2 separate regions of the Homo sapiens genome follow, and region 1 is linked to region 2. The links come from fine-mapping of genetic effects on gene expression. Tissue or cell type: tibial nerve. Region 2 holds a variant in brackets; the other region holds the start of a gene. All regions are shown on one strand. Distances are between the middles of the regions.

Evidence for each region. PIP is the estimated chance that this variant, and not a neighbour inherited with it, causes the effect.
Region 1: it holds the start of KMT5C, and the variant in region 2 is fine-mapped to the expression of KMT5C in tibial nerve (GTEx, PIP 0.95).

Annotation. Positions count from the first base shown.
Region 1 is chr19:55,335,859-55,342,028 of GRCh38, reverse strand. KMT5C (lysine methyltransferase 5C) reads right to left here and starts at 2,153. Exons shown (of 9, transcript NM_032701.4): 1 at 2,072-2,153; 2 at 1-235. The coding sequence starts at 92. RefSeq lists silencers at 577-756, 2,002-2,061 and enhancers at 2,082-2,151, 2,461-3,234, 3,235-4,009.
Region 2 is chr19:55,387,345-55,395,216 of GRCh38, reverse strand. RPL28 (ribosomal protein L28) reads right to left here. Exons shown (of 5, transcript NM_000991.5): 4 at 7,169-7,287; 5 at 3,132-6,974. The coding sequence ends at 6,885. MIR6805 (microRNA 6805) reads right to left here and starts at 7,036; the gene lies at 6,975-7,036. The variant C/T (reference allele first, on the strand shown) is at 4,392.

The sequences.
Region 1 (6,170 bases), 52 kb after region 2:
GTGCGGAAACCGAGGTAGGGGTCCAGGACGAGGCTGGTGGCCAGGTCGTCGTTCTCGCACAGTTCTCGTGCTGTCACTCTGTCGGGCCCCATGGTGCCCTGCGGACCATGCTGCCTCTGGCAGAGAGCAGGAGCAGGTGAGGGCAAGGCAGGCGCGGGGAGCCTGGCTTGGTGCTGACTCCACTCCCACGCTACTCAGAAGCCATGGGGGACGCTGGTGAGCCCCACGATCTCATCTGCAAAATGGGGAGAAAAGCAGTGCTGACTTCACCAGGCCGCTGGCGAAGATGGAATGCAACAAGTACTTCTGAGAGTAGGGAAAGCCCAGAGCCATGTCAGCCATCGCCTTAGCTCTTGCTCTTGCTCCGCAGCGCAGACACAGATCCCCCCTAAACACACAACCCCCACATGCACACCCATGCACACTCAGACTGACACACGCAGATGCCCCTGCCCATATGTACAGAGACCCCCTACACACACACATCTCTTTGGGCCCAGAGAAGGCTGACTGATTGGCAGCCGGGATCACCCTAAAGGCTTAGCACCGTGGGGAGCCGCTTCACCTCTAGCCCTCAAGGAGGAAAAGTCAAAGCTTCCCGCCAGCCCGAGGTCCCGCCCTCCACCCCCACCTCGACCCAGCCTCGGTCTCCGCCCCCTGCCTCCCCGGCAGCCTTCGGGAGTGGTCAGGAGGCTCCGGGTGAAGCCCCAGGCAGCCTGGAGGCGGGTGACGGGAGGGAGGGCAGGGGAGGGATCCCAGCACCTGCTCCCTCTCCAAGGATTCCAGGGGAGGGGGGCTCAGAGGACAAAAGCGGGGGTGGGGAGGGGAGCAAAGGAAGACTATGGGGAGGCAGCACAGGTCAATATTTACAAAAACATTTTTTTAAAGCGGAGCCAGGAGAGAACGGAGAGATGAAGAAAACCACCCAAACCCCTAACCCGGACGGAGGGCCAGCCTCGTCCCCGCACCACGGCGCTCGAGGCTCATCCGCGCCCAGGAGAGGAGGAGATGGGGCAGGGCAAGGAGCGGGAGCTGCAGAGACGGCTGTGGAGGGGTCGGGGACAGACTGCGAGGCTGCGGGAGAGAAAGAGGGGGCGCTGCAGGAGGACGCCAGGGACAGCGGGGAAGCTGGAGAGGGGGCTGGGGGCAAGGAGAGAAACGCACAGCGGTGGGCACGGCAGGGGGCTGTGGGAGGGAGAAGGCTGCAGCCGGGCCTGGGGGCGCTCAGAGGGGTGTGAGGAAGGGATGGGGGTGCCAGGGAGGACAGAGAGCGGGGAATGGCCTAGGGACTCAGGGAGGAGCCAGACGGGAGACCTGGGTCGGGGGGCGGTCCAGGGATGGCGGAGAAGATCCTGGGTGTCCAGTGAGTGAAGGGCCTGAGAGGGCGGACAGGGGCCCAGGGATCCAAACGGGCTTGGTGGGGTCCTGGGGGATCCAGGAAAGGGAGACCCTAGGGAAGGGCCTGGGGACCCAGGGAGGCGCCTGGGTAGGCGGTGAGAGCCCAGGGCAAGGGACCTGGAGGGTCAGAGGCCGACCTCAGGGTCCAGGGAGTGCCAGGAGAGGGACAGAGGGGTCAGGGAGAGGTTCTAGGGCACAGAAAGACCTAGAGGGTCCAGAAGGAGGCCTGGAGGGTGAGAGGAGGTCGGGGATTGGCCCTGGGAGTGCAGGGAGGTCCCGGGGGTGAGAGAAGGGTCAGGGAGAGGCCCTGAGGGTGCAGGGAGAGACCTGGGGGTGCAGGGAGAGGCCTGGAGGGTGAGGTCAGGGAAAGGCCCTGGGGGGTGCAGGGAGAGGCCTGGAGAGTGACAAGAGGTCAGGGAGAGGCCCTGAGGATGCAGGGAGGGCCGTGGACGTAAGAAGGGGGTCAGGGCCCGGGTGAGGAAGCACAGGAAGGAGGCTGCAGTGCCGCGGAGCCCGAGGCCCGGCGAGGGGCCGGGAGACGTGGGCGCCTGGACACGAGGAGGGGCCGGGCGGGGTGGGGGGCAGTCGGGGCAGGGGGCGACTGGGGAGCCAAGGCGGCGCGGGGCTGGGGCCGTGAAGGGGCTCAGAGATCGGGCCCCGCGCCGCCCCTCACCCGCTTCTCCTCCTCCTCCTCAGGCGCCCGCGCCGCCGCCGCCAACACCTCCCACAGCCTCCTTCGGCTCTCGTCAAACACTGTCGCCGCACCTCCCATCTGCTCTCCGGGCCAGCCCCGCCAAGGCCACTGAGGCTTTCTATTGGCCACAGCCACCGCCACTCCTCCGTTGCTACGAAGCTCACGGCGCTCCCATTGGCCAAGCCCCACTCTTTCCCTCCGCGCCCGGCTCTCGTCAATACACAGATAAAACCCCGCCACGCCCCCGCCGCCGTCAAACGCCGCGAACTGTTGTCAGTGGTTCACATCGCTGTCCTTTAGTCGCTGCCATGGAGACTTGTCCCGCCTTCGCTCACACTGGGGCTCGAAATCGACGCACTCATTGGCCGAAAGCGCAGTCTCTCCGGGCGAAACTCGGTTTGGGTCGGGTTATTCAGGTCCAAGTGGAAAGAGGGCGGGCTCTGCCAGCTCCAGTAGTCGTATATGATTGCCTGGCCTTGGGACAGCTCCTCTTTCCATTGGGTAAGGCCTCCGTCCATCACCATAGAGTCGCGGCCTCCCTCTTCTATTTCTCCGAGGAAAGCTTCGGCCACAGGAGGGAGAAAGCCAGACCCGGCGGGAGGGAGGCGGTGAATGCGCGCGCACCGCCATCCCTCTCCCCTCCCGCCCCGCGAGGCCTGCGGTTACCAAGGCGACGAAACTTTATTGACAGCTCTGCCTGGCTACAAAGGGCTCCTCAGTCTCTCTCCCTCCCTCCCCGTTTACACCGTTGCGTTTTGGGAGTATCCACACGCACTCTGTGGGACCTTCCCGCGATATGAACGGGGTCGGATGGAGGGAGGGGAGGCTGAGGGAGGAGTGGGGACTTTTGAGACAAGCCCTGACTCCTGGGGCGCTCCCCTGGGGCACCCCCTAATTGGGATCACCCCCCCTACCTCAATCCTAGAGGCAAACGTAACTAACAATTCATCATAATTACGCCGAGAATAATAAGCTCCACACTCAGAACAGGCGGTCTTTGTTTGCTTGTTTGTTTGTTTCGCCACAGCCATTCTTCCCTTAACGACACTGATACCATCTGGGCAGTGCGTGCTCAGGCGATGTCGTCATCCTGCCAGCATCCTAGAGCAACATCACTCACACCTACGTGGCAGGGCTGCTGGCACCTGGGCTGTAAGGTGGCCGGCGGCTCCTGGGCCACACAGCTGTGCAGCATGTTACTGTCCGGTAACACAATGTAGGCGCTTGTGTGTCTACACATATAGGATCACTGTCAGACATGCGCTCCACTGTACAGCTATAGATCGTGGGCACTTAAAACAATGCATGCCACAGAGTAGGTGCTGTTTTGGTGTGCTGTTTTTGGTGTTTTGGTGTGTGTGTGTGTGTGTGTGTGTGTGTGTGTGAGAGAGAGAGAGAGAGAGAGAGAGAGAGAGAGAGAGAGAGAGAGAGAGAGACAGAGACAGAGTATCGCTCTCTCGCCCAGGCTAGAGTGCAGTGGAGTGATCTCGGCTCACTGCAGCCTCTGCTTCCCAGGTTCAAACGATTCTCCTGCCTCAGCCTCCCAAGTAGCTGGGATTACAGGCATGCACTACCACCCCTGGCTAATTTTTTTTTAGACAGAGTTCCCTCTTGTTGCCCAGGCTGGAGTGGAATGGTGCGATGTCGGCTCACTGCAACCTCCGCCGCCCAGGTTCAAGCGATTTTCCTGCTTCAGCCTCCCAAATAGTTGGGATTACAGGCATGCACTACCATGCCCGGCTAATTTTTTTTTTTTTTTTTTTTTTTAGTAGATACGGGGTTTCACCATGTTGGTCAGGCTGGTCTCGAACTCCTGACCTCAGGTGATCCACCCACCTCAGCCTCCCAAAGTGCTGGGATTACAGGCATGAGCCACCATGCCTGGCCTGTATTGTGTTTTGAGACAGGGTCTTCCTCTGTTGCCCAGGCTGGAGTGCAGTGGTGCAAGGATGGCTCACTGCAGCCTCGACCTCCTGGGTTCAAGCGATCCTACAGCCTCAGCCTCCTGAGTAGCTGGGACCACAGACGCATGCCACCATGCTCGGCTAATCCTTTAATTTTTGTAGAGACAGGGTCTCTCTAGGGGCTCATTCAAGTGATGCTCCCTTCTTTTTTTTTTTTTTTGAGAGAGGGTCTTGCTCTGTCGCCCAGGCTGGAGTACAGTGGTGCGATCTCGGCTCTCTGCCTCCCGAATTCAAGTGATTCTCCTGCCTCAGCCTCCTGAGTAGCTGGGATTACAGGTGCCCACCACCATGCCCAGCTAGTTTCTGTATTTTTAGTAGAGGTGGGGTTTCGCCATGCTGGCCAAGCTGGTCTTGAACTCCTGACCTCAGGTGATCCACCCACCTCAGCCTCCCAAAGTGCTGGGATTACAGGTGTGAGCCACCATGGCTGGCCTAGGCACTTTGTTAATATGTACTGAATGAATGTGTGAATGACCAACCAATAAGGATGAAGCTGACAGTCTCTGCATTGCTCTGTGACTTTGAGGAAGTGACTTGCCATCTCTGGGCTTTGGGTTCCCATCTATAAAACATAGACCATACACTTGTTTGGCTTCCAGCTTTCCACCCTTTGTTCATGCTATTTCTTCTCCAACAGGGACTATCCCCTAGCCCCATGCTTTACCTCCCTAATCTCTCATGAGCTCTGAAATACCCCCTAACTCAGGCAGGCACCACTACAGCTAAAGTCGACCAAACCTTTCTCGGGACCATCACTTTGACCAGGACCATGCCGGCAGAAGGGAACTGGGGCTGGGGACTTGCCATGGAGCAGCTAGAGGAGACAGAGGTGGACAGAGGTGGCCATACCAGAGCAAGGTGATGCCAACTGTAACTCCTGGTCATCAGTGGGGAGGGACAGGTGACCAGCTCCAGAAGAGAAAAGCAGCCTTACCCAGGGAGGGGGAAATGGCAAGCATAAAGGACTTCATGGAAACTCAGCTAACTGGAAAAGTTGTATCAGTCTGTATGAAGTACAGTCCTTCTACTAGTGGGTGGGTGTACACTCTAGAGAAACTCTCCGACTTGGAATAAAGAGATAAATGCAAGAATGCTCGCTATCGTGTTTGTAACGGTGAGGAACTGGAAACGGTTTCCATCACCAGAAGAATGGAAACATGGATCCTGGTATATTGATACAGGGGAACACCATATGTCAGTGAAAGTAGATGCACCAGTGTCCCATATATCACCCGGGACAACCCGTAGTTGCAGAAGTCTACAATGCCATTGACACGAAGTTTTGAAACACATACAATGGCTGGGCACAGCCGCTCACGCCTGTAATCCCAGCACTTTGGGAGGCCGAGGCCGGTGGATCACCTGAGGTCGGAAGTTCGAGACCAGCCTGGCCAACATGATGAAACCCCGTCTCTACTAAAAATACAAAAATTTACCCGCACATGGTGGCAGGCACCTGTAATCCCAGCTACTTAGGAGGCTGAGGCAGGAGAATTGCTTGAACCCAGGAGGCAGAGGTTGCAGTGAGCCGAGATTGCACCACTACACTCCAGCCTGGATGACAAGAGCGAAATTCCATCTCAAAAAACAAAGCAAAACAAAACAATGGTTGCATGTGGATACATGTGGCAAAAGGATACACACGTGAAGGGCATGACTAACACAGCATGGGGAGGGAAGCGGCCGCCCCTGAGGGTGGGGAGGGAAGAATGCAATCGGGAAAGCTACACGGGACATTGGTATTTGGAAATTTTGTTTAAGCCCTGTGGTGGAATCCATGAGTTCATTATATTTTTCTTTTTATCTCTATTTTTTTTAACTACACCTGTAACAAAACTGCATTTCTTTCTTTCTTTTCTTTCTTTCTTTCCCTTTCTTTCCTTCCTTCCTTCTTTCTTTTTCTTTTCTTTCTTTTTTTTATCTTGAGACAAAATCTCGCTCTGTTGCCCAGGCTGGAGTGCAGTGGTGCGATCTCAGCTCACTGCAAGCTCTGCCTCCCGGGTTCACGGCATTCTCCTGCCTCAGCCTCCCGAGTAGCTGGGACTACAGGTGCCCACCACCACGCCCAGCTAATTTTTTGTATTTTTAGTAGAAATGGGGTTTCACTCTGTTAG
Region 2 (7,872 bases):
TGTAGTGAGCCGAGATCGCACCACTGTACTCCAGCCTGGGCGACAAGAGTGAAACTCTGTCTCAAAAAAATAAATAAATAAATAAATAAGAAAAGGAAAAAAAAGAAAGGCTAATATTCATCACATGGTATTCCAACTCTCCTTCCTTGAGACAAATGTTTGCATATTGTGACTATCCAGAGGCATTCGATGCATATACAAGCAAATACACATGCATCTTATTGTTTAAATATTTAAAAATATTTAACAGGAATGTTGGCATATCATTTACACTATTTGCAGGTTGCTTTTTTTCACTTAATATATTTTAGAGATTGGCCCAAAACATAAGCTTTTTCATGTTTTAAAAATTCTGGGTGGGGCCAGGCACAGTGGCTCACGCCTATAATCCCAGCACTTTGGGAGGATTGAGCCCAGGAGTTCAAGACCAGCCTGGACAACATAGTGAGATCGTGTCTCTACAAAACAATTTTAAAAATTAGCTGGGTGTGGCAGCACACACCTGTGGTCCCAGCCTCTCTGGAGACTGAGGTGGGAGGACTGTTTCAGCCCAGGAGTTCAAGGCTACAGAGAGCCTTGATCTTGCCACAGCACTCCAGCCTGGAAAACAGAGTGAGATTCTTTTTAAAAATATATATAAATAAATAGAAATTCTGGGCTAGGTGCAGTGGCTCACACCTGTAATCCCAGCACTTTTAGAGGCCAAGGCAGGAGGATCACTTGAGGTCAGGAATTCAAGCCCAACCTGGGTAACACAGTGAGACCTTGTCTCTACAAAAATATTTAAAACTTAGCTGGGTGTGGTGGAGCACACCGGTGGTGCCAGCTACTTCGGAGACTGAGGTGGGAGGATTGTTTGAGCCCAGGAGTTCAAGGCTGCAGTGAGCCGAGATTGTGCCACAGCACTCCAGCCTGAGCAACAGACCTTTATCTTTTTGTTTGTTTGTTTGTTTTTGAGACGGAGTCTCGCTCTGTCACACAGGCTGGAGTGCAGTGGCGTGATCTTGGCTCACTGCTACCTCCGCCTCCTGGATTCAAGCGATTCTCCTGCCTCAGCCTGCCAAGTAGCTGGGACTACAGGCGCACACCACCACATCTGGCCAGTTTTTAGTATTTTTAGTATAGATAGGGTTTCACTGTGTTAGCCTGGATGGTCTTGATCTCCTGACCTTGTGATCCGCCTGCCTGGGCCTCCCAAAGTGCTGGGATTACAGGAGTGAGCCACCGTACCCAGCTGAGACCCTGTCCCTTTAAAAAAAAGACTTGTAGCTGGGTGCAGTGGCTCACACCTGTAATCCCAGCACTTTGGGAGGCCAACACAGGCAGATCACCTGAGGTCAGGAGTTCGAGACCAGCCTGGCCAACATGGTGACACCCCCGTCTCTACTAAAAATACAAAAATTAGCCAGGCGTGGTGGCGGGCCCCTGTAATCCCAGCTACTTGAGGGGCTGAGGCAGGAGAATCGCTTGAACCCAGGAGGTGGAGGTTGCAGTGAGCTGAGGTCGCAGTGAGCCAAGGTCATGCCATTGCACTCCAGCCAGGGCGACAGAGCAAGACTCCATCTCAAAAAAAAAAAAAAAAAAACAAATTGGTGATTGGCAGGGCAGGGGCTAGAGGGGACATGAGTGGGAGTGGCTGCTTCATGGATACTGGGTGTCCATTCAGGATGATGAAATGTTCTGGAATAAGATAGGGGTTGTGGTTGCAAAGCTTTGTGAAGACTAAAAATCACTGAATTGTGCACTCTAAAAGCGTGGACTTTATGTTACGTGAATTATACCTTTTTCTTTTTTTGGAGACAGTCTTCATCTGAGCCTAGGGACCAGCTAGGAGCTTCAGGGAGGAGAGAGGCCTCAGAGATTACAGCCTAAGGAGGCTGGGGAGACTGGACAGGGCCAGATCCCGGGCCTTGCTGGCCCTAGAGAAAGGTTTGGGCTTTTATTCCTCATGGGGGTCGGGGGGGGGGGGGGGTGCGTCGGCCAAGGGAGGATGACAGGTCTCATTTATCATTTGTAAAGATCAATTTGCTACTGTGTAGAGAACAGCCTGGAGGGACAGCAGGGGAGCGGGCGGGTGTGGGAGGCCGGTGGGAGCTGGGGCCGCTGGAGGTGTGATTCAGACATGCTAGGGATGGCTGGGCCTGGGGGAGGGCCAGGTGTTCAAGAGGAACAGAGGAGAGGGGTGCTGGGGAGCCTCTGGGGGATTAGCCATTGAGGGGTGTGTTTAAATGAGTGGCTTCATCAATGCAGCGCTGATGGCCATCGAAAGGGGCCCGCAGCCTGTGTGTGCTGATGGAGAGACAGCCCAGTGCATTAGGGAAAAGGAGCAAGGGGGAGGTTCCTGTTGCCATGATCCAATCTGTGTAAGACATTAAAAGATGAGGCTGGGGCCGGACGCGGTGGCTCACGCCTGTAATCCCAGCACTTTGGGGGACCGAGGCGGACGGATCACGAGGTCAGGAGATCGAGACCATCCTGGCTAACACGGTGAAACCCCGTCTCTACTAAAAATACAAAAAACATTTAGCCGGGCGTGGTGGCGGGCGCCTGTAGTCCCAGCTCCTGGGGAGGCTGGGGCAGGAGAATGGCGTGAACCTGGGAGGCGTAGCTCACCCGAGGTCGCGCCACTGCACTCCAGCCTGGGTAACAAAGCGTGACTCCGCCTCAAAAAAAAAAAAAGATGAGGCTGGGTGCAGTGGCTCACGCTTGTAATCCCAACACTTTGGGGGACGAAGTCAGGAGGATTGCTTGTGCCCAGGACTTCAGGACCAGCCTGGGCAACACAGTGAGACCCTGTCTCTACAAAATATCTTTTTAAATTAGCCAGGCGTGGTGCTGCACACCTTAGTCCCAGCTACACAAGGGGCTAAGGCGGGACAATTGAGAGTGCCCAGGAGTTAGAGGCTGCAGTGAGCCGTGATTGCGCCACTGCACTCCAACCCAGGCAACAGTGAGACCCCGTCTCTTAGACAAACAAAAAGAGGAGATCTGCATGCATATGTGTGAAGTTTCCAAAAAGGAGAAGCACAGGTGGCTAACTTAGGGGCTGGGATTCTGAGATTTTCTTCCCCTGCATACTCTTCTTTCATTTGCAGTTTTTCAAGACCACATGCATATTTCATAATGAAAGATTTTAAAGTAGATGATTTTATTCTAGTAACTGGCTACAAGAGAAACAGGGGAATTGATACCATTCCTGGGCAGCGCCAAACAGCCTGGGCTGGAAATGCAGCTGAGGACAGAATGATATTCACAAACACGGGCAGGAGGCTGGGAAAGCTCACAGCCCCACAGGACGGCGGGGCAGACCTGGAGCCACCAGGCATTACTGCACATGGATCTGGCATGTCTTCCAGGTGCTTGGGAAACACGAGCATTAGTTTGTGTACAAATTAGTCATAGGCATGTGAAGACATCTGTGATCATGAGTCCATCTGATCAAAATATTTATAAAAAGTCATTAATTTATTCCTACAATCAGGATTTGTGGGCACAGTCAAGCAGGTTTTGCACATTTAATCTTCTCATCAACCCTGAGTAGTAGGGTCTATCGACACGCATGTTACAGATGAGGGTACGAAGACACAGAGAGGTTGAGGAACTTGCCCAAGGTTGCACAGCCACCGAGCAGCAGAGCCCTGACCCAGTAGATGCCAGCATGTCCTGTGAACAGAGGATGCCTCAGTCCCGAGTCTCTGCTGCTGTGGGGAGTCTGGAGTCCCCAGCGCTCTGCACAACTTTGGGCTTGGCAGCCTTCCAGGGTGCGCCCTACGCTCACTCACCATGCAGCTACTGGACTAAGAGCTGGAGAGACAGCAGTGAACACTGAGACACCTGCCTTATGCAGGGCTGTGAAAGGCACTCAAAATGGCCTTTTACATATGGGAAACTGAGGCACGGTGCTACTAAACGAGCTGCCCAAGTCCCCACAGCTGGGCATAACTGGCAGAGCTGGGACTGGAACCCAGGCAGTTTGATTCCTGGCTTCCGTGAACCATTAGCCCTGAGCTGGGAATGCTGCCGGGCATCACTCTTGGGGATAGGATGACCTGGGGGAGGTTCTTTCAGCACTCTGGATGTGTCCCCACTGCCTGGGCCTGGTTTCTGATGAGGGCAGCTACTAACTTTATCAGGGACCTTCTGTATGTGACAAGACGCTTTTCTTTTGTTCTCCCAATTTTGTCTTTGGCTTTCAGCATTTTTACTATGGTGAGCCTGCCTGTTTTCTTAATATCATGTTTTTGGTTTAACTGGTTTTCCAATTTCCAGGCCAACAGACATGATTTGTGTGAATAAAGCTGGAATAGATGGCCCCATCCAACATCTCTCTCTCCAAGATGAGGTCTAGAGGAGGGAAATGGTGTCTCCACGTTTGCTCAGCACACTGAGGA[C/T]TCCAAACTCTGTGGGGCTGAGACCATCTCCCTCCCTCCAGCCCTCTCCTGGTTCCTCCACCCCAACCCACCGATAGCATTCAGATACCAGACGTGGCCTCCCCAGCCCAGCCACACAGACAGGCTGGCCACCCGCAGGAACAGAGGCCCACTAAGCTGGGCTGTGTTACGGATGAGACCAGGGGAGGCCACACAGCAGGGAGGATTCAGATAGGGATGGAGAAAGCCAGCAGGACTCCACAGGGGGTGGGGCCTAGAGGCACAAGCCTCCAGGGCAGGCAAGGAGGTGGTTAAGGACAAGGCCTTCTGAGCAGCAGCAGCCACATCAGAAAGCCTCGAGCGCCTGTAATGCCAGCACTTTGGGAGGCTGAGGCAGGTGGGTAATTTGAAGTCAGGAGTTCCAAACCAGCCTGGGCAAAATGGTGAAACCCCATCTCTGCTAAAAATACAATACTGAGCTGGGTGTGGTGACACCCACCTGTAATCCCAGCTACTCGGGAGGCTGAGGCAGGAGAATCGCTTGAACCCAGGAGGTGGAGGCTGCAGTGAGCCAAGATCGCGCCATTGCACTCGCCAGCCTGGGCAACAGAGCGAGACTCCATCTCCAGAAAGTCTCCAGTGAGCAAACTCTCAGGACCGGTGGGCTTTATACATTCAATATGCACCATTCATCAAGCATCTCATTATATGCTGGTGTGCTAGACAAACCCCTTGCCCACCAGCACAAGACAAACATGAGACAGATAAACCTGCCAGCTTGTGGGCTGCAAATCAGTGCTGTGGAGGACAACTGAAGCAGGTGCCAGGGGAGAGGCCTCACGAGAAGGGGCCATCTACTAACGTGAGCAGTGAGCTCTCCTTATGAAGGCGGAGTCCCAGCGCAGTGAGGCCAGCCAGAGATGGGCCTGAGTGGGACTGGGACAGTGGGGGCTCCTGAGCAGGTACGAAGTCACCAGCGGAGTGAGGCCAGCTGGAGGTGGGCCTGAGTGGGATTGGGACAGTGCGGGGGGTCCTGAGCAGGTACCAAGTCACCCAACTCAGTTTTAAGGCAACACCTCTCAATCTGAGCTAATAGACCCAACTAAGGGAAGGACAAAGGAAATGGTAATTCACAGCAGACAGGGGCTGGCAAGTGGTCAGATCTGCTCTCCTTCGAGCTGGGCAAGACTGGAGCAGACAGGACTGAGGTCGGAAGGGCAGTGGTCTGCCTCAAAACGCAGGGCTCCCAGCCCCGTACGACCCCAACCAATGGCAAGTCGAGGCCCTGACAGTCCCCTTACTCTCAGTCAGAGCCGGGGGTGGTCTCAGACAGGGAGCAGAGTCCTTCTTTGAATCGGGTACCCCAGGATGGCAGGAACCAGGGGTGCCATGGATGCTGGATCCTTGGTCCCTGGCAGTGGCTGACAGAGTTAGGTGCCCAGGAAACATGTGAGGATCAACAGCAGGACTCTTTCCCCATCCAGGCCTCACTGTGTGTCATGGTGTCTTCCAGGCTGGAGTGTAGTGGTGGGGCTCATGGGCTCACTGCAGCCTCATACTCTTGGCTCAAGTGCTCCGCTCACCTCAGCCTCTACTCAACCTCTGAGGAGCTGGGACCACAGGCGGTGCACCACCACACCCAGCTAATTTTATTTTAGAGACGGTGTCTCATTATGTTGCCTAGGATGGTCTCAAACTCCTGGCCTCACAAGCTGTAATAAACACTAGGGAGCAAACAGGCCAAAGGAAACAAGAGGGCTGGGCAATCAGGAAAGCTTGGGTGACAGGGTGGCCCAGGAGCGGCCACTGAGATGAGACCTAAGTGACAAGAGCCAGCTCAAAGAGACAGGGGAGGGATGGGGACACCTGGAGGACGGGAGTAGGGGGACAATGCTAAGGCTGCTCAATGCCTGCTGGCTGTACCCTGGGGCTGCCATCTCCCTTACAGTTATAAGCCACCACCCACCAAGTTGCCCATCTCAGAGATGAGGTTGCATCAAGTAAAGCCCATCCCCTCCAAATGTGGCTGCACCCACTCCCTGGATGCAAAAGTCATCTCATCTTCCTCCCGTGATGTCTGTCGTCCCCCAGGTCTTGGGAACACCCCAAGTCCCCAAACCGTGCTACAGCACCAGGGCCCAGGGCCCAGCCCTCAGCCTGCACCCTTCTGGGCTAGAAAAGGCCTTTCTTCTTCTGAATGGAAGCCACTGCCCCAGCTGGGATTCTTCAGGCCACCTCACAATGGGACAGTAGGTCTCAATCACAAGTCAGCAAACTTTTTCTGTGAAGACAGTGACCCTTGCCCTCACCAGGGACAAGGCAGCTACCCCACCCCTCCTGCATGGCCAGCCATTGACATCACCTCCAGATGGACAAGGTGACATGCAGAGTTTTGATGACATGGCCTGAATGACAACACACAGGGCCAGAGCTCCCCAGAGCGTTTCAAAAAGGGAGGCCCAGTCGAGGCAGGTGAGAAAGCCAGCTGACTTTATTGCTCTGGGGGCAGGGGGCTCAGGAGCTCTTGGTGGGGCGGGTCCGCTTCCTCTTCACCATCACAGGCTTCTGGCTGCGCAGGATGGCGCTGGCCCTGCGGATGGCTGCCTGGGGGCGGGGGAGCAGAGCAAGGCTCAGCCCATACACTCCACAAGCCGCCCCCTAGGCCAATGCTGGGTGTGGGGAGTAGGCTGAAAGCAAGAATCCATCCCTCTCCAGCCCATATTGCAACCAGTAGTGGGAGGCCCTTCCCCACAGCACTGGCCAGTCTCCCCAAGCCTGATCCCCAAACCCCAGCTCACCATGCGCAGGTCGGGGCGGTACTTGTTCTTGCGGATCATGTGTCTGATGCTGCTGAGCGTGGCGCGAGCATTCTTGTTGATGGTGGTCCGCACATAGGAGGTGGCAGGCTTCCGCTGGCCTGGTTGGGGGTCAGGGAGGTCCTGGGGTCAGTCCACCTAACCTGCACCTTTAGCACACCTCGCAGGTGTGGACAGTCTCACATTGAGAAGCTGAGCAGCGTGGGCCCGTGGCGGGTGCCTGGGCAGGCCAGCAGGTAGCTGTTTTCCCACCTGTCCATTTCACAGAGGCTCACTCGTCATCACGGAGTACTGAGGACACAGCTTCTGCCACACTCATAGCCCAATTCTGTCCACCATGAAAACACTCCTTTCTCATGCCAGAAAGCTGCCGCTTCAGTTAGGATCTGATCCAGGTCCAGCCAGAGCCCACGCTCCTGGCAATGGGTATGAACAGCTTCCCAGGAACCCCAGGCCCATCCCCACAGCAGTGGTTCAACATCAGCTTGGCTGAGAGGCCCAGCCTCACTCAGGCCAGTCCCTTAGTCTAGGAAGGGCCACCCATGTATTCGGCAATCCAAGAGGTGAAAGCTTTCAGGACTCCCCAGAACGGGGTCCCCAAGTGCCAAGCAATTGGCTGCTCCCTGGACTACGTGTCCCTGAGACAGGAGGATCACTAGCCAACAGACTGCGTTTGTTGCTGCCAC